Linked DNA regions of Homo sapiens: region 1 is linked to region 2. The links come from fine-mapping of genetic effects on gene expression. A gene starts in region 2. The other region holds a variant in brackets. All regions are shown on one strand. Distances are from middle to middle.

Region 1 (8,988 bases), 24 kb before region 2:
AGCCATCTTTATTTTTTTTTTTTGAGACAGAGTCTCACTCTGTTGCCTAGGCTAGAGTGCAGTGGCACAATCTTGGCCCACTGCAACTTCCGCCTCCTGGGTTCAAGCGATTCTCCTGCCTTAGCCTCCCAAGTAGCTGGGACTACAGGTGTGTGCCACTGCACTTAGCTAATTTTTTATTTTTAGTAGAGACAGGATTTCACCACATTGGCCAGGCTGGTCTTGAACTCCTGACCTCCGGTGATATGCCAGCCTTGGCCTCCCAAAGTGCTGGGATGACAGGCGTGAGCCACTGCGCCTGGCCAGCTCTGCCTTTTTTTTTTTTGAGATGGAGTTTCACTCTTGTTGCCCAGGCTGGAGTGCAGTGGCATGACCTTGGCTCACTGCAACCTCCCGCTTCCTGTTTCAAGCGATTCTCCTGCCTCAGTCTCTGGAGTAGCTGGGATTACAGGTGCATGCCACCATGCCTGGCTAAGTTTTGTACTTTTAGTAGAGACGGGGTTTCACCATGTTGGCCAGGCTGGTGTTGAACTCCTGACCTTGTGATCCGCCCGCCTTGGCCTCCCAAAGTGCTGGGATTACAGGCATGAGCCACTGTGCCTAGCCAGCTCTGTCTTTTTTTTTTTTTTTTTTTTGAGACAGAGTTTCGCTCTGTCGTCCAAGCTGGAGTGCAGTGGCGCAATCTTGGCTTCATTGTGTTAGCCAGGATGGTCTCGATCTCCTGATCTCGTGATCCGCCCGCCTCGGCCTCCCAAAGTGCTGGGATTACAGGCGTGAGCCACTGCACCTGGCCAGCTCTGCCTTTCTTAACTCACGGTCTGATGGCAGAGGCATGGCCTTGTCCACAGAAGCCCCCAGTCTGATGGAAGAGTTGCGGCTCTGACTTCAGGAGCTTCCATTTGATGGGAGAGATATGGCCCTACCTTGAGGGGTTCCCACTCTGAGGAAGGAGACGTGAACCTATCTTCAGTCTGATGGGGGAGGCAGGTTCAACCTTCAACGGTCCCCTGTCTAATGCAGGAGACATAGTCTTGACTTCCAGGGTCCCAGAGTAATGGAGGAGACATAGGCCTGCCTTCAAGAGTCCCCAGTCTGATGAGGGAGGCATAGTCCAAACTTCAAGCGTCCCCAGTCTGATGGGGGAGGTATGGTGTAAATTTCAAGGGCCCAGTCCAACACAGGAGGCATGGCCCTAACTAACTTACAAGGTCCCAGTCTGCTGGAGGAGAAGCGAGCCTTCCTTCTAGGGGCCCCTACCTGATGGGGGAGGCATGATCCAGCCCTTCCAGGGCTCCAGTCTGACACGCAGGCACAGCCCAGCTCTTGGGGTTGCAGTGGGGTGGGTGACCAAAGGCGTAGCCTCGGAGCCTGGAGCTTCATACCCAGGCCCTGTCCCTCCCTCACCCTGGAGGTCGAGGAGTCTCCCTTACCTGTAAATGGGGCAGCAACAGAGCGTGTGCCCGGGGGGTGTTTGTGGACTGAGTGGGTGGTGTCACCCCATTCCCAGATAAGGAAACAGGCTCAGGGAGCCCCAAGTTCACACTGGAACTGGCAAAAGCTGGGGAAATGGCATGGCCCCTCTTCTCCTGTAAGCCCAGGCTGGGGCGGCAGTGGGCTCCAGCAGAAGGGGCCCCCATCGCCCCTCCTCCCCATCCCTCTGATGTGCTCCAGCAGCCAGGCAGCCCCGGAGGAGTTGATGGAGATCTCAGATGAAGGCTGACAGCTCCCGAAGACAGGATGACAGACGCGGGCTGGTGGGGAACGGGTACTGTCGGCAGGGATAGGGGAAGGGCAGGCTTCAGAGGGTGAGGGTAGGGGGCCCTGAGAGGTGGGGCAGGGCAGGGAGGGGTCCCCCGCTGGTCAGGAGGGACAGAGCCCGATGCATGGCTGTGCCTGCCCCTCTACTCCCTCAGTCCTGGGAACCCCCAGGAGAGAACTGGGGGCTGAGAGCAGAATTGCCCCCAGGACACAGGGTGAGAGAACAAAGCTTCTCAGGGGAAAAAAAAAAGAAATAAAAATAAAATTCCAGTGGTGTATGAAAGAGTGGGGTGTGAGAGGGGAGGAGGTGAAACCTGGGGCTCCCTGAGCCTGTTTCCTCATTGGGGAATGGGGTGATGCCCCCTCAACCCATTTGCGAGCACCCACGATGTGCCAGCTGGTTTTGGGGTGCTGGGGTGCACCAATTTTTTTGAGATGGAGTCTCACTCTGTTGTCCAAGCTGGATGGAGTGCAATGGCATAATCTTGGCTCACTGCAACCTCTGCCTCCCGGGTTCAAGTTATTCTCCTGCCTCGGCCTCTGGAGTAGCTGGGATTACAGGCACCTGCCCCATGCCCGGCTAATTTTTGTATTTTTAGTAGAGACAGAGTTTCACCATGTTGGGCAGGCTGGTCTCAAACTCCTGACCTCAGGTGATACACCTACCTCAGCCTCTGAAAGTGCTGGGATTACAGGTGTGAACCGCTGCGCCCGGCCCGAATAAACTTCTACTGTTTATAATTTACCCAGTCTGTGGTGTTCTGTGAAAGCAGCAGCAAATGGACAAAGACACAAGCTGCAGACAAGGTCTGTGTAGGTAAGAAACTGAGAGTGTTTTCTGGCCAACAGCCATGAGGGACTGAATTCTGTCAACAACCACAAAGGTTTGGCAGCAGGTCCTTCCCCAGTTGAGCCTTCAGATGACACCCCAGCCTGGGCCTGTGTCTTTTTTTTTTTTTTTTCTTTGAGACGGGAGTCTCGCTCTGTCCCCCTGGCTGGAGTGCAGTGGTGCAATCTTGGCTCACTGCAACCTCTGCCTCCTGGGTTCAAGTGATTCTCCTGTCTCAGCCTCCCAAGTAGCTGGAATTACAGGCATGTACCACCATGCCCAACTAATTTTTGTACTTTTTTGTAGTGACAGGGTTTTGCCATGTTGGCCAGGCTGGTCTTGAACTCATGACCTCAAGTGATCCGCCCGCCTCGGCCTGTGAAAGTGGTGGGATTACAGCCATGAGCCACTGCGCCCAGCCTGGCCTCTGTCTTGATTGCATTCTTGCTAAACCTTAAAGCGGGAGACCCAATGAAACCACACCCAGCTCTATGTTGTTTTTAAGTTGTTCAGTTTTGGTATAATTTGTTATGCAGCACCAGAAAACAAACAGAGGGAGAGATGGGCAATAAACACGTTCCCAAGGCATCCCCTCTGCATCTCCTTAGAACACACTCACCTGCTTTATTTTCACCACCTTCGGTATACATTATTTATATGTTATTGTAAAAATATATAATACATAAAAGTTTTTTGGGGGCCGGGTGCGGTAGCTCACGCCTGTAATCCCAGCAGTTTGGGAGCTGAGGCGGGCGAATCACTTGAGGTCAGGAGTTCGAGACCAGCCTGGCAACATGGCAAAACCCCATCTCTACTAAAAATACAAAAATTAAGCCAGGCAGGGTGGCGCGTGCCTGTCATCCCAGCTACTCTGGAGGCTGAGGCAGGAGAATCGCTTGAACCCGGGAGGCGGAGGTTGCAGTGAGCCGAGATCCTGCCACTGCACTCCAGCGGGGGTGATAGAGTGAGATGCTGTCTCAAAAAAAAAAAAAATTAAAATTAAAATAAGAACGGGTGTTGGAAGTGGGAGTTCAACTTTGTTTCTGCCAAATGCTCAGGGAACATTTGATAAACACAGGTTCCTTCCTTCCCTCTGCCAACTCCTTCTGCTGCCCCCGCCGAGGAGGGGAACTTCCCAGCCAGAGCTTTCTACTCATAAAGCCAGTGAGTCCCATCCTTGTTGAGTATGTAGAGCGCAGCCCC[T/C]TTGAAGGCAAATTGTAGCATCTTTTTTTTTAATTAATTATTTTTTGAGATGGAATCTCACTCTGTTGCCCAGGCTGGAGTGCAGTGGCATGATCTCAGCTCACTGCAACCTCCACCTTCCAGGTTCAAGTGATCCTCCTGCCTCAGCCTACCAATTAGCTGGGATTACAGGTGCCCGCCACCACATCTGACTAATTTTTTTATTTTTAGTGGGGGTGGTGGGAGTCTCACCATGTTGGCCAGGCTGGTCTTGAACTCCTGACCTCAGGTGATCTGCCCGCCGTGGCCTCCCAAAGTGCTGGGATTACATGCGTGAGCCACCGTGCCCCACCTTTCTTTAAAAAAAGACAAATTGAGAAACGGTCTGGCCATGTTGCCCAGTCTGGACTCGACCTCCTGTCTTCAACCAACCCTCCTGCCTCAGCCCCCCAAAGTCCTGGGATTACAGGAACATGCCACAGTTCCTGTCCTGGGCCTAGCTCCCCACCCCCCTCCCCCTTTTTCAGGCAGGATCTTGGTCTCTCACCAAGGCTGGAGTGCAGTGGTACAGTTACACCTCACTGCAGCCTCAATCTCCCGGGCTCAAGTGATCCTCCCACCTCAGCCTCCCAAGTAGCTGGGATTCCAGGCCTGAGCCACCACACCCGGCTGGAATTCCATTATTTATGCCAGAGTTCAGCCTTCACCTACTGGGGACATTGGGTTCGTTCCCCATAATGTTGCTGCTAAACACAGTGTCACGACAAACCTCCTCGTGGGTGTTTCCTTATGAATGTGGGCAAATACCTCTTAGAACAGACAGCCAGAAATGGAACTGCCTACTCAAAGAAGGTTCATATTGTTCACTTTAAAAGATTCCAGGCTGGTGCAGTGTCTCACGCCTGTAATCCCTGCACTTTGGGAGGCTGAGGCAGTCAGATCACCTGAGGTCAGGAGTTCAAGACCAGCCTGGCCAAGATGGTGAGACCCGTCTCTACTAAAAACACAAAAATTAGCTGGGCGTGGTGGCAGGCACCTGTAATCCCAGCTGCTGGGGAGGCTGAGGCAGAGAATTGCTTGAACCTGGGAGGTGGAGGTTGCAGTGAGCCAAGATCACACCACTGCACTCTAGCCTGGGCAACAGAGGGAGACTCTGTCTCAAACAAACAAACAAAAAGATTGTACAGGCAGGGCACAATGGCTCAGGCCTGTAATCTTAGCACTTTGGGAGGCTGAGGCAGGCAGATCACCTGAGGTCAGGAGTTCAAGACCAGCCTGGCCAACATGGTGAAACCCTGTCTCTACTAAAAATACAAAAATTAAGCCAGGCGTGGTGGCGGGCGCCTGTAATCCCAGCTACTCTGGAGGCTGAGGCAGGAGAATCGCTTGAACCCGGGAGGCGGAGGTTGCAGTGAGCCAAGATCGCGCCATCGCACTCCAGCCTGGGGGACAAGAGCGAGACGTCGTCTCCAAAAAAAAAAAAAAAAAAAAAAGGTAAAGAAAGAAAAAAAAAAAGAAGAGAAAACAAAAAGAGCCCAGATGCACACTCAGGCGACAACTAAATATAAATATCTGGGCTCATGCCTGTTACAGTGGCTTATGCCTGTGACCCCAGCACTTTGTGAGGCTGAGGCAGGAGGATCACTTGAGCCCATGAGTTCAAGATCAGCCTGGGCAACATGATGAAACCCAGTCTCTACTAAATATACAAAAAGTTAGCCAGGAATGGTGGCATCCACCTGAGGTCTCAGCGACTCGCGAGGCTGAGGTGGGAGGATCACCTGAGCTCGGAAGTTCAAGGCTGCAGTGAGTCAAGAATACGCTACCGCACTCCAGCCTGGGCAACAGAGTGAGATCCTGTCTCAAGACACAAACAAACCTCTGTGGAATGACCCTCGAATTGTGCTAACAGAGGAGGTCCTGGGACCTCCTCATCAGACTCTGGGAGAGAGAAGGGGCCCAGGCGGTTGGCAGGTTTCCTTTTATTGGTTCTAGACAGTTTGTGGAAGGAAGAGATGAGGCCATCTAGAGGCCGGCAGGCTCGCCCAGTGCCCCAAACACTGCCACCCTGAAGTAGTGTTGGAAGCTGCTCCAGGGATGTTGCAGCCCTAAGCACAGTGACAGGTGGGGGCAGGAGCAGCAGGGGTCCCCGAGGTGTTGAGAGGCTGGTGAGGGCACAGAGAAGGGACCTCCTGGGGCTGAGGCCCCTGGTGGCCCTATGTGTTGGAGCACGCTGGCGCTTGTCTGTCCGGCCTCCAGTCACGCCAAGGCCTCCTGCCCTGACCACCAGCAATGCTGGCCTCAATGTGGCTGAAGCTGGACGTGTGACTTTGACCCCGTGAGGGGGTCCTGGGAGGGCTCAGTTGCTGCCGTTGCTGTCGTCACTGTCCAGGTATGCACCCAGTTGGCTCAGGGAGGACGCGCCAGGCGTCAGGGGTGTAGGGTTGGCCTCCTTCCTGTTCTGCGGGGCTCCTGGTGGGAGAGCGAGAGTTAGCTCATCTCAGCTCCACAGCAGACAGGCCAGGGACAAGGCACGGGGCCGGCCACCTCTGCAGGTTTGCAAGGTCCAGAGGTGACAGCATGTGAATGGCCTGGCCTTTCTGGATGGCACCTGATGGGACCCATTGCAGATTTACATCTGCACACCCGGGACTCAACAGCTCCGCTTCTGAACAATGGCCAATGCAAACCTTGCCCAGGCAGGCAACGTGCGCTGCCAAGAATGGAAATGGCGCAAAGTTCACAGTCCAGTCACTGTGGACTTAATCGCCTTAGGAAACATCATACTAAGGCAACTAAAAGACAAAAACAGGCCGGGCGCGGTGGCTCATGCCTGTAATCCCAGCATTTTGGGAGGCCGAGGTGAGTGGATCACCTGAGGTCGGGAGTTCCAGACCAGCCTGACCAACATGGAGAAATCCCACCTCTACTAATAATACAAAAATTTAGCCGGGCGTGGTGCTGTAGTCCCAGCTACTTGGGAGGCTGAGGCAGAGAACTGCTCAAACCAGGGAGGCGGAGGTTGCGGTGAGCCGAGATGGCACCACTGCACTCCAGCCTGGGCAACAGAGCAAGACTCTGTCTCAAAAAAAAAAAAAGAAAAAAGAAAAAAGAAAAAAAGAAGCCGCCTGCCTTCTCTGCTCACTCCACTAATTGGTCCTGTGGGGGTCGCAGGCCGCCCCCACCCACCCCATGAAGTCTCTGTAACTGCAAAGGGAGCTGCTGCCACCTACAGGCCACTATAGAAACCGCGCCCGGCTCTGGGAACTCTGTGACCTTACCTGGGGTGGGGGCCGCCTGAGGCTGCCCGTTGCTGCAGTCCGGGTCGGCCTTTGCCTTCTTCACCACGACCAGCCTCGACAGCGGGGGCCGGCTGCCCAGGCTGCCAACGCTCTGCTCCCAGACCTCCACCTTCCTCTTGGGCTTTGGGGCCTGCAGGTGATGGGGACACATGTGGGGGTCTGGCCCGGATCCAGGGCCCAGTCTGGCCCCTCGCCACAACCCCTGCTCACTGCCCCATGCCCACTCTTCCACTGCTGCACTGACCACATTCCTCCTCTGCTCTAAACTCCTCTATGGCTCCCCACTGCCCTAGGCTTGGCACTCAAGGCCTCTGCCCATTCTCCATCCCACATAGCCTGGTCTGGCACTTCCTGAGTCACACCATGGCTTCTCATCTCCACGCCTTTACCCATGCTATTCCCTTCACCAGGGATGCCCCCTTTTCCATGCACTCGCTTGGTGAACTCCTACTCACCCTTCAATACCCAACACAAGACACCCCTCCTCTGAGAAGCCCATCATGGTTCAAGCTCACATGCAGGCTGCATGTCCACGCTCACAGTGCCCTCTGCTGGCTGTTATAACTCTCTCCCCAACTCTGCCGTGAGCTCCTGTCTTCCCCACTGCTGGCTCTGCGGTGCCACAAACAGTTCCTGGCACAAGGAGGTGCTCAATGTACTTGAGAGAACGAGTGAAAATGGAGGAAGCCGCCTTGAGAAAGAGTTAGGGGCAGGTAGAAAAGGCCTCCAGCTCCTTAACTGCAACAGAAGGGACCCTTTAATCTATATTATTAAAAAAATTTTTTTGGGGGGAAGGTCTCACTCTATTGCCCAGGCTGGAGTGCAGTGGTGCAATCATAGCTCACTGCAGCCTCGAACTCCTGGGCTCAAGCGATTCTCCTGCCTCAGCCTCCTGCAGGTGCACGCCACCATGGCAGGCTAACATTTTTAATTTTTGTAGAGACGGGATCTCGCTATGTTGCCCAGGCTGGTCTCAAACTCCTGGCTCAAGCGATCCTCCCGTCTCAGCGTCCCAAAGAGCTGGGATGACAGGCGTGAGCCACTGCATCTAGCCTCTTCAATCTGTTTTATGTTTAAATAGAGGAAGTGGTAACCACTGGGTTAAGGAAGTCCCAATGGGTGCTCTGCCCTCACGGAGCTCACCGTGTGGGGAGGGAGAGGGACAAGGAGACCAATACCCAGGATAACATCCATCTGGGTGAGAGAGAAGCCAGGGTGCGTGAGCTTGAATTGTGAGGATGAGCTTCTCAGAGGAAGGGCGTCTTGCATTGGGTATTGAAGGGCGAGTAGGAGTTCACCAAGCGAGTGCTTGGCAAAGGGGGCATCCCAGGTAAGGGGAATGGCATGGGTAAAGGCGTGATGAGAAGCCACAGTGTGATTCAGGAAGTGCCAGGGCAGGCTAGGTGGGATGGAGAATGGGCAGAGACCTTGAGTGCCAAGCTGACGGTGTGAGGGGCGGCCACTGCTAAGGTGGTGGAGAGGCCTCCTTAAAGTTGTGGCTCTGGGCCGGGCGCAGTGGCTCATGCTTCTAATCCCGGCACTTTGGGAGGCCAAGGCAGGTGGATCACGAGGTCAGATAGAGACCATCCTGGCTAACACGGTGAAAGCCCGTCTCTACTATAAATACAAGAAATTAGCCAGGCTTGGTGGCACACGCCTGTAATCCCAGCTACTCGGGAGACTGAGGCAGGAGAATCGCTTGAACCTGGGAGGCAGAGGTTGCAGTGAGCCGAGATCGTGCCACTGCACTCCAGCCTGGGTGACAGGGCGAGACGCCGTCTCGAAAAAAAAAAAAAAAAATGTCGTAGCTCTGGGCTGATGTCAAAATGAGGAAAAGAAGTCAAAAGGCACAGATGGCCAGGCACAGAGGCACACACCTGTAATCCCAACACTTTGGGAGGCCGAGGCGGGTGGACC
Region 2 (8,988 bases):
GAAAGATGCCACACAGAAAAATGCTGCCCCACCCCCCTCTTCCCCTCCTACTCCGGGCTCTGCTCCCCAGCCCAGCACGCCCGCCTCCTGTCTGATCCTGCAAACACCCCCAGCTCAGTCCCAGCTCAAGGCCTCTGCTCCTACAGTCTCATGGCCGGCGACACCCTTCATCCTCAGACCTCAGCGCCACCAGTATTTTGCCTGATGTCACCGTACCCCAGCTACCTATAGCCCTCCCTCCTGCGCCACTGCCCCAGGGGCTCTCTCCTGCCTGACTTCGGGGGCCCGTGCACCTGCCTGACTACCACTATTCTCCACTTCCCATTAGACTGTGGGCTCCATGAGGCCAGGGACTTTGTTCCTGGCGCTCGGCACAGACCCTGGCACACAGCAGGTGCCCAATAAATGAGTGTTGAATGAATAAATGAATGAATGAGGGGGAGGAGTAGACAGGCCAACAACACATGGGCATGAACCGAATTTCACTGACCCAGATGTCTCTTTCCTCGTTAGGTGCGTGATTTCAGATATGCTAGAGCATGAAAAGGTATGGGGTTGAGAGTTGGTGAAATACAGTAATTCTGAAGTGCTACAAAAGGCAAGATCTGGGCACCGTGAGGGGATGATGGAGGCCTCCCGGAGGGGTGAGATTGGAGCCATGACCTATGGCAGACAAGAGGAGCCTGCCATGTGTAAGTAGAAGGAGAAGGCCAGGTGCGGCAGCTCACGCCTGCAATCCCAGCACTTTGGGAGGCCAAGGAGGGCAGATCACCTGAGGTCAGGAGTTCGAGACCAGCTTGGCCAACATGGTAAAACACCAACTCTACTGAAAATACAAAAATTAGCCGGGCGTGGTGGTGCACGCCTGTAATCCCAGCTACTTGGGAGGCTGAGGCAGGAGAATCGCTTGAAGCCAGGAGGTGGAGGTTGCAGTGAGCTGAGATCACGCCACTGCACTCCAGCCTGGGCAACACGGCAAGACTCTGTCTCAACAAAAAAAAAAAAAGAAAGAAAGAAAGTAGAGGGAGAGAGTTCCAAGCAGGGGCAGCAGTGTGTGCAAAGGCCCTGGGGTAGGAACGAGCTTGGCTGTTGGAGGAGCTGAAATATATCTATGGGGCTGCATCTCTGTGGCGTCCTATCCTCTCTGCACACACGTTTACTAACCACCATGATCTCAAGGCAGGCACTGGCTGGAGGGCTCTAAAAGATCCAAAGCTTAATCCCAAGTGGTGAGGCGAAGGAGGGTTGGAATGGTCAATGTCTGAGCCAGGACAATGTCTAAGACCAGTGATCTGGTCTTAACACCGGACGAGTCACCTCTGTGGATGCCAGGCACTGCGTCCTTCAGCCATGACTGGTGTGTGGGGTCACGCAGGGGGTGCTCACCTCATGTTGAAGGGGGCCATCAGCCGCACCACGTACTGCCGGTCTTTGGGGAGCTTGAGTTTGGGGATCTTTGATGGGTCAAAGTCCGGCGGGTAGTATTTCTGCAGGGGAGGAAGGAAACGTTGGGGGAGTTATTTTCAGAAGCAGGGGCAGGACATGGCAGAGGGAAGGGGCTCTGGGGAGCTGTGTCGGGGGTCCCCAAGCCCACCCCAGGTTCCGCGACAGGCAGGGAGGACTCGCAGGACTCAGTACAGTCAGAGGGAGGCCAGGCACAAGCTTCCTGACTCTCTCCTAGTGGAGTTATACAGGACGCATTTAATTCTCCTAAATACCAGTCATGACAATACACATGAAATGCTGTCTACACGGGAAGCTCTAAAAAGCCAGGGTTTGTTTTTGTTTTTGTTCTGAGACGGAGTTTTGCTCTTGTTGCCCAGGCTGGAGTCCAGTGGCGCGATCTTGGCTCACTGCAACCTCCGCCTCCTGGGTTCAAGCGATTCTCCTGCCTCAGCCTCTACAGTAGCTGGGATTACAGGCGCCCACCACCACTCCCCGCTAATTTTTGTATTTTTAGTAGAGATGGGGTTTCACCATGTTGGCCAGGCTAGTCTCGAACTCCTGACCTCAGGTGATCCACCTGCCTTGGCCTCCCAAAGAGCTGGTATTACACACGTGAGCCATCATGCCCTGCCCTTTGTAGAGGTTAAGCTTTGCTTAGCACTTCTGTTGTTCAGGCAGGAGACCGAGTTCCCCGAGGAGTCCCAACTCCCCAGCAATTCTGTAGAGGGTAAACCAGGACTCTGTTAGCTCAGCCTCCCAATCACGATACTACATCCGTTTCCTACAGAGTCATCTCCCTGGATCTGAATCCTGAGGAGCTGAAACCTGCAGGGCTCAGTTTACTCCTCTGTGAAATGCGCACACTGTCCTCTGTCTCCAAGAGTCTTTGCACGCATTCCTTGAGGCAAGGGGGATAAAGTGCTCTTTGCAGTGTCTGGCACCCAGTAGGTGCTCCAAACACAAAGTGCTTTATTTTCCAGTGGTGCAGTGGAGGTATCTGTCATAATCCATACTCACACTCCCTTTGTATCCCAGGGCTCCTGTTTCCCAGGAGTTCCTACAGCAAGCCTGAGACTGCTCTCCTAGAAAGACCTGCGTGGGGCCGGGCGCGGTGGCTCACGCCTGTAATTCCAGCACTTTGGGAGTATGAGGTGGGTGGAATGCCTGAGATCAAGAGTTCAAAACCACCCTGGGCAACATGGTGAAATCTCATCTCTACTAAAATACAAAAAAAATTAACCAGGCATGGTGGCGGGCGCCTGCAGTCCCAGCTACTCAGGAGGCTGAGGCAGGAGAATCGCTTGAACCCAGGAGGCAGAAGCTGCAGTGAGCCAAGAACGTGCCACTGCACTCCAGCCTGGGAAGCAAGCGCAAAACTCCATCTCAAAAAACCAAAAAACAGAAGTGTGCCAACAGTATAGTTTATACTGAACCTCTGCTTTTCTTCTGGGAGTCTGGAATCTTGGCCACTGTCAGGCAGAGGTTATCTGCATGACCAGACCCCAGTAAAATCTTGGCCACTGTAAGGCAGAGGTTATCTGCATGACCAGACCCCAGTAAAAAAAACAAAACACACACACACACACACACACACACACACACACACACACACACACACACACACACACACACACACACACACACACACACACACACACACACACACACACACACACACACACACACGCGCCACCCCACCCCACCCCACCCAAAGTACACGATTGGTTACAGTCCCCAAGTGGGGCGGGGCTTCTCAGAGCCACGCCCCTCAAGAAGAGGGCAAAACACGGCCGCCAGCATTTAAGGAAGCCCCGCCCCCAGAAAAAAAACCCTATCTGGTGGTGATTGGGTAAAAGCCCAAGCCACGCCCCGCAGGTGACTAACTACACCCCAGCCCAGAAGGGAGACTTAGCGAAGGCCCACCCCCCCGACGGAAGGCGATGGGGAGGAGTCTAGGGAGGAGTCTGGGAAGCCCCATCTCGCGGAAGGCCGCTGGGAAAGAAGGGTTCCAAAGAAGAGATCTCAGGAAGCTCCTCCCTCTCCCGGAGTTCCGGGATGTCCTGCTCCGATTGAAAAGCCCCAGTCGCCCAACACTTACGTTTAATACTTTTCGCTCCGACATCTTTGCCTTCTGATCACCTCGCAAGCACCTGAGAAATGGTTAGGCTGGGTAATTATCGAGCTTTTCCGACGGAAGCCTTACTTCCGCAAACGTCACTTCCTTCGGCCGCTATTATTGGCTGCAGCATACACAGCAGACCTCTTTCATTGGTTCCAATCCCCGCCTATCAAGCTGGAAGTCCCAGCGTCTTCCCTCCGGAGTTGCAACCTGAGTAGCGCGAAATAAGGATTCCGGGAGCCATGTGGAATTGGAGAATTTTGTATAGTGCGCTGCGCCCCCTAGAAGCGGGCAGCGGCTCGTTAAAATTTTGTAACGTGACCTCTTGTTCTTCATTCTTTTATTCAGCAAATATGTATTATGCGCCTGCCTTGTATTCTGGGCTCTGGGAATCCACACATCGTTCCTGGGCCCGCAACTCTCACATGGGGTTGGGGCCACACATAGGGTGACTTAAGAGGACCCTGGACGACTCTTGAGTCACAGACATTGACTTAAAGATCAGGCTCCAAACCAACTTCCTAAACATACGCAGTGTCTCCCAAATGTCCCTCCATTGCCCACCTGTGCCTTCCCCTTAACGAGGACTTCCCATCCCATTCCTTCCCCAGCCTCCTTCCCCAGCCTCCTCCCCACCTTTCATGGACGTTTCCTCTGTGTCAGATTGTTCCAGGAAAGGGGTCCGGATCCAGACCCCAGGAGAGGGTTCTTGGATCTCGTGCAAGAAGGAATTCAGGGCGAGTCCACAGTGCAAAGCAAAAACAAGTTTATTTAGAAAGTAGATGAATAAAAGAATGGCTACTTCACAGACAAAGCAGCCCCAAGGGCTGGTGGTTGCCCATGTTTATGGTGATTTATTGATGATATGCTAAACAAGGGGTGGATTATTCATACCTCCCTTTTTTAGACCATATAGGGTAACTTCTTGATGTTGCTGTGGCAATTGTTTGTTTATTTATTTATCTTTTGAGGAGTCTTGCTCTGTTGCCCAGGCTGACGGGCAGTGGTGCGATCTTGGCTCACTGCAACCTCTGCCTCCAGTGGTGCGATCTTGGCTCACTGCAACCTCCACCTCAGGATTCAAGTGATTCTCCTGTCTCAACCTCCCGAGTAGCTGGGATTACAGGCACGCACCACCACACCTGCCTAATTTTTGTAGTTTTAGTAGAGATGGGGTTTCACCATTTTGGCCAGGCAGGTCTCGAACTCCTGACCTCAGGTGATCTGCTCGCCTCTGCCTCCCAAAGTGCTGGGATTACAGGCATGAGCCACTGCACCTGGCCAAAAATCAACTCCATCTTAAAATTAACAAGGCACATTCGCTGCCAGTCACGAGCCAGGGTCATAAGATGTTTACAATTGAGAAAACGTCTTACAAATGCCTAGGAGGACACACTACTACAACAATGGAAGGTCCAGATGTCCTGATATTGCATAGCAATGTATGCTTTTAAGATCGTTATAGTCGCCAGGCGCGGTGGCTCATGCCTGTAATCCCAGCACTTTGGGAGGCCAAGGAGGGTGGATCACCTGAGGTCAGGAGTTCGAGACCAGCCTGGTCACCATGGCCACCATGGTGGAACCCCATCTCTACTAAAAATACAAAAATTAGCCGGGCGTGGTGGCGGGAACCTGTAATCCCAGCTACTTGGGAGGCTGAGGCAGGAGAATTGCATGAACCCAGGAGGCTGAGGTTGCAGTGAACTGAGATCGAGATTGTGCCGCTGCCCTGTGGCCTGGGCGACAGAGTGAGACTCCATCTCAAAAAAAAAAAAAAAGAGAAAAAAAAGAAAAAGATACCGGGCATGGTGGCTTACGCCTGTAATCCCAGCACTTTGGGAGGCCGACGTGGGCGAATCACCTGAGGTCAGGAGTTCAAGACCAATCAGACCAACACGGAGAAACCCCGTCTCTACTAAAAATGCAAAATTAGCCAGGTGCGGTGGTGCAGGTCGAGAGTTCAAGACCAACCAGACCAACATGAAGAAATCTTGTCTCTACTAAAAATACAAAATTAGCCGGGCATGGTGGTGCATGCCTGTAATCCCAGCTGCTTGGGAGGCTGAGGCAGGAGAATCACTTGAACCTGGGAGGCAGAGGTTGCGGTGAGTCGATATGGCGCCATTGCACTCCAGCCTGGGTGACAAGAGTGAAACTCCATCTCAAAAAAAAAAAAAGAAAATATGGTTATAGTCATGGTGTAATGTACTTAGGCACTAAAATGGCAAGGATATGTATGTATACTTTTTGAGACAGGGTCTCGCTCTGTCACCTAGGCTGGAGTGCAGTAACGCAATCATGGCTCTCTGTGGCCTCCACTTCCCGGCTCAGGCGATCCCCCACCTCAGCCTTCCGAGTTAGCTGGAACTATAGGTACCACCACACCTGGCTAATATTTGGCAGTTTTTGTAGAGACAGGGTTTCGCCATGTTGCCCAAGCTGGTCTGGAAATCCTGGGCTGAAGTGATCTGCCGGCCTCGGCCTACCAAAGTGTTACAATTACAGGTGTGAGCCACTGCACCCAGCCAGGATAACTTTCTTTAAGTCGACAAAGTACTACGTTTTGTCACGCGGTCAGCCCACCTACACGTGGACATAGCTTTCACACAGATAAGACCCCTATATAAGAAAAAACCGGTTGTACATGGTGGCTCACACCTGTAATCCCAACACTTTGGGAGGCCGAGGTGGGAGGATCACTTGAGCTCAGGAGTTCAAGGCCAGCCTGGCCAACACGGTAAAACCTCGTCTCTACTAAAAATATAAAAATTAGCTGGGCGCAGTGGTACATGCCTGAATCCCAACTACTCAGGAGACTGAAGCAGGAGAATCGCTTGAACCTGGCAGGTGGAGGTTGCAGTGAGCCAAGATCGTGCCAAGATCGTGCCATTGTACCTGGGTGACAGAGCAAGACTCCATCTCAAAAATAAATCAATAAATAAAATAAAAATAAAAACCTTAAAACAAAGACAAGGCGTTCCTCCTCTTGTTTTCTGAGGACGCCCTACTTTGTAACTGAGTAGCCTTCCTTTTTTTTTTTTTTTTTTTTTTTTTTTGAGGAGTTTTGCTCTTGTTGCCCGGGCTGGAGTGCAATGGTACAATCTCGGCTCACCGCAACCTCCGTCTCCCAGGTTCAAGCTATTCTCCTACCTCAGCCTCCCAAGTAGCTGGGATTAAAAGCATGTGCCACCACGTCCGGCTAATTTTGTATTTTTAGTAGAGACGGGGTTTCTCCATGTTGGTCAGGCTGGTCTTGAACTCCTGAGGTGTTCAAGAGGTGATCCACCCACCTCAGCCTCCCAAAGTGCTGGGATTACAGGTGTGAGCCACCACACCCAGCTAGGGACCCCTTTTCCTGGCACCAGGAAGACAATAATATGGGACAAGGAATGGTGTTAAATAAAGTTTACAGGAAGCCATGGGTTTGGACTGAGCTCCTGCACTAGGCCCAAAAGACTAAACCAAAATGAAGTCCCTCATGCGGAAGTTTTACACCAAGCTGAAACTAAGTTGTTTTTCTGGTTTTCCAAGAAATCGAGAACTGGAAGGAAGTGGGGAGAGAGAGAGAGAGAGGGAGAGAGAGAAAGAGAGGGAATAGTCAAATCCATGAACAGAGGCAGGCAGATCACCTGAGCTCGGGAGTTCAAGACCAGCCTGGCCAACATGGCGAAACCCCGTTTCCACTAAAATACAAAAAATTAGCGGGGTGCGGTGGTGGGTGCCTGTAATCCCAGCTACTTGGGAGGCTGACTCACGAGAATTGCTTGAACCTGGGAGGCGGAGATTGCAGTGAGCCCAGATCATGCCACTGCACTCCAGCCTAGGCAACAGAACCAGATTCTGTCTCAAAAAAAAAAAAAAAAAGGCCAGGCACTGTGGCTCATGCCTGTAATCCCTGCACTTTGGGAGGCGGGTGGATAACGAGGTCAGGAGATTGAGACCATCCTGGCCAACATGGTGAAACCCTGTCTCTACTAAAAATACAAAGATTAGCTGGGCAGGGTGGCACACGCCTGTAGTCCCAGCTACTTGGGAGGCTGAGGCAGGAGAATCGCTTGAACCCGGGAGGTGGAGGCTGCAGTGAGCCAAGATTGTGCCACTACACTCCAGCCTGGGTGACAGAGCGAGACTGTCTCAAAAAAAAAAAAAAAAAAAAATCCCTGAACAGGCCTGTTTTAGCCAGCACGATAGTCTCCTTTGCTCTAAACTTGACAAGAAAAGTAACTTTGAAAAGACCAATCCACTTTTTGTTTTCTATTTCTGCTTTACTCAGCCTTTTTCTGTCTATAAAACCAACCTCTTTTTCAGTGAGCTGAGATCACCACTGCACTCCAGCCTGGGCAACAAGAGTGAAACTCCGTCTCAAAATAAATAAATAAAACCTGCTTTGCAAAAGTGGAAGGTTTGGCCGGGCATGGTGCCTCATTCCTGTAATCCCAGCACTTTGGGAGGCTGAGGCGGGTTGATCATGAGGTCAGGAGTTCAAGACCAGCCTGGCCAACATGGGGAAACCCCATCTCTACTAAAAATACAAAAATTAGCCGGGTGTGATGATGGGCACCTGTAGTCCCAGCTACTTGGGAGGCAGAGGCAAGAGAATCATTTGAATCCAGGAGGCGGAGGTTACAGTCAGCCAAGACCACGCCACTGCCCCCCAGCCTGGGTGACAGAGAGAGACTCTGTCTCGGGAAAAAAAAAAAATGGAAGGTTTAACAGACTTTAAAAAAGAAAGAAAAAGAACCCCTAATGTTGTCTGCTCAGCTCATGGAAACATTCTGAAACTGGTCCAATTGTTCCATAAAACGAATACTTATGATTATTTGAATAAACACAGAAATGGATCCTCCCTAGTCTTAAAACTTGAAACTTACATTTGTCTCATCTCAGTTCCTTCCTCAGGAAACTGACCATCAGGCAAGGAACTGAAACTCATCAGATCATCACATCCAGACAATGAGAGGCCAGACCCCATCATCCATCAAGATTACTTCCTTAACACCCTCCCTGAATTTGTTTTCTCCCATTCCCCAGCTATATAAACTCCCCAATTTTAGTTGGTCAGGGAGACATATGAGACTTTACCACCCCTTCTCATTGACTGCAGCGGCAGGATAAAGCATTCCTCCCTGGCAATCCTTGTTGCCTCGGTGATTGGCTTTCTGCGCAGAGGGCAGCAAGACCTAGACCAAACACCTGGTGTTTTAGTAGCTAATTCGATTTGATGAAATGAGGTGTTGCCTGATTCCAGAATTGCAAAGAAAACCCAATTCAGATCTCTGAACTATATAGGTTGCAGCATTTTTGTTTTGTTTTGTTTTGAGATGCAGTCTTACTGTGTTGCTCAGGCTAGAGTGCAGTGACGCGATCTCAGCTCACCACAGCCTCCACCTCCCGAGTTCAAGTGACTCTCCTGCCTCAGCCTC

The links.
Region 1: its variant is fine-mapped to the expression of YJU2 in whole blood (TOPMed, PIP 0.98).

Annotation. Positions count from the first base shown.
Region 1 is chr19:4,265,837-4,274,824 of GRCh38, reverse strand. It overlaps YJU2 (YJU2 splicing factor homolog), which reads right to left. Exons shown (of 8, transcript NM_018074.6): 7 at 7,051-7,201; 8 at 5,737-6,241. The coding sequence ends at 6,129. Among named protein-coding and RNA genes, the nearest start is that of SHD, 8.9 kb to the left of the region's middle. The variant T/C (reference allele first, on the strand shown) is at 3,791.
Region 2 is chr19:4,241,727-4,250,714 of GRCh38, reverse strand. It overlaps YJU2 (YJU2 splicing factor homolog), which reads right to left and starts at 3,635. Exons shown (of 8, transcript NM_018074.6): 1 at 3,545-3,635; 2 at 1,387-1,487. The coding sequence starts at 3,568. RefSeq lists enhancers at 3,476-3,565, 3,906-4,045, 3,804-4,575, 7,939-8,038, 8,189-8,238 and a silencer at 8,417-8,617.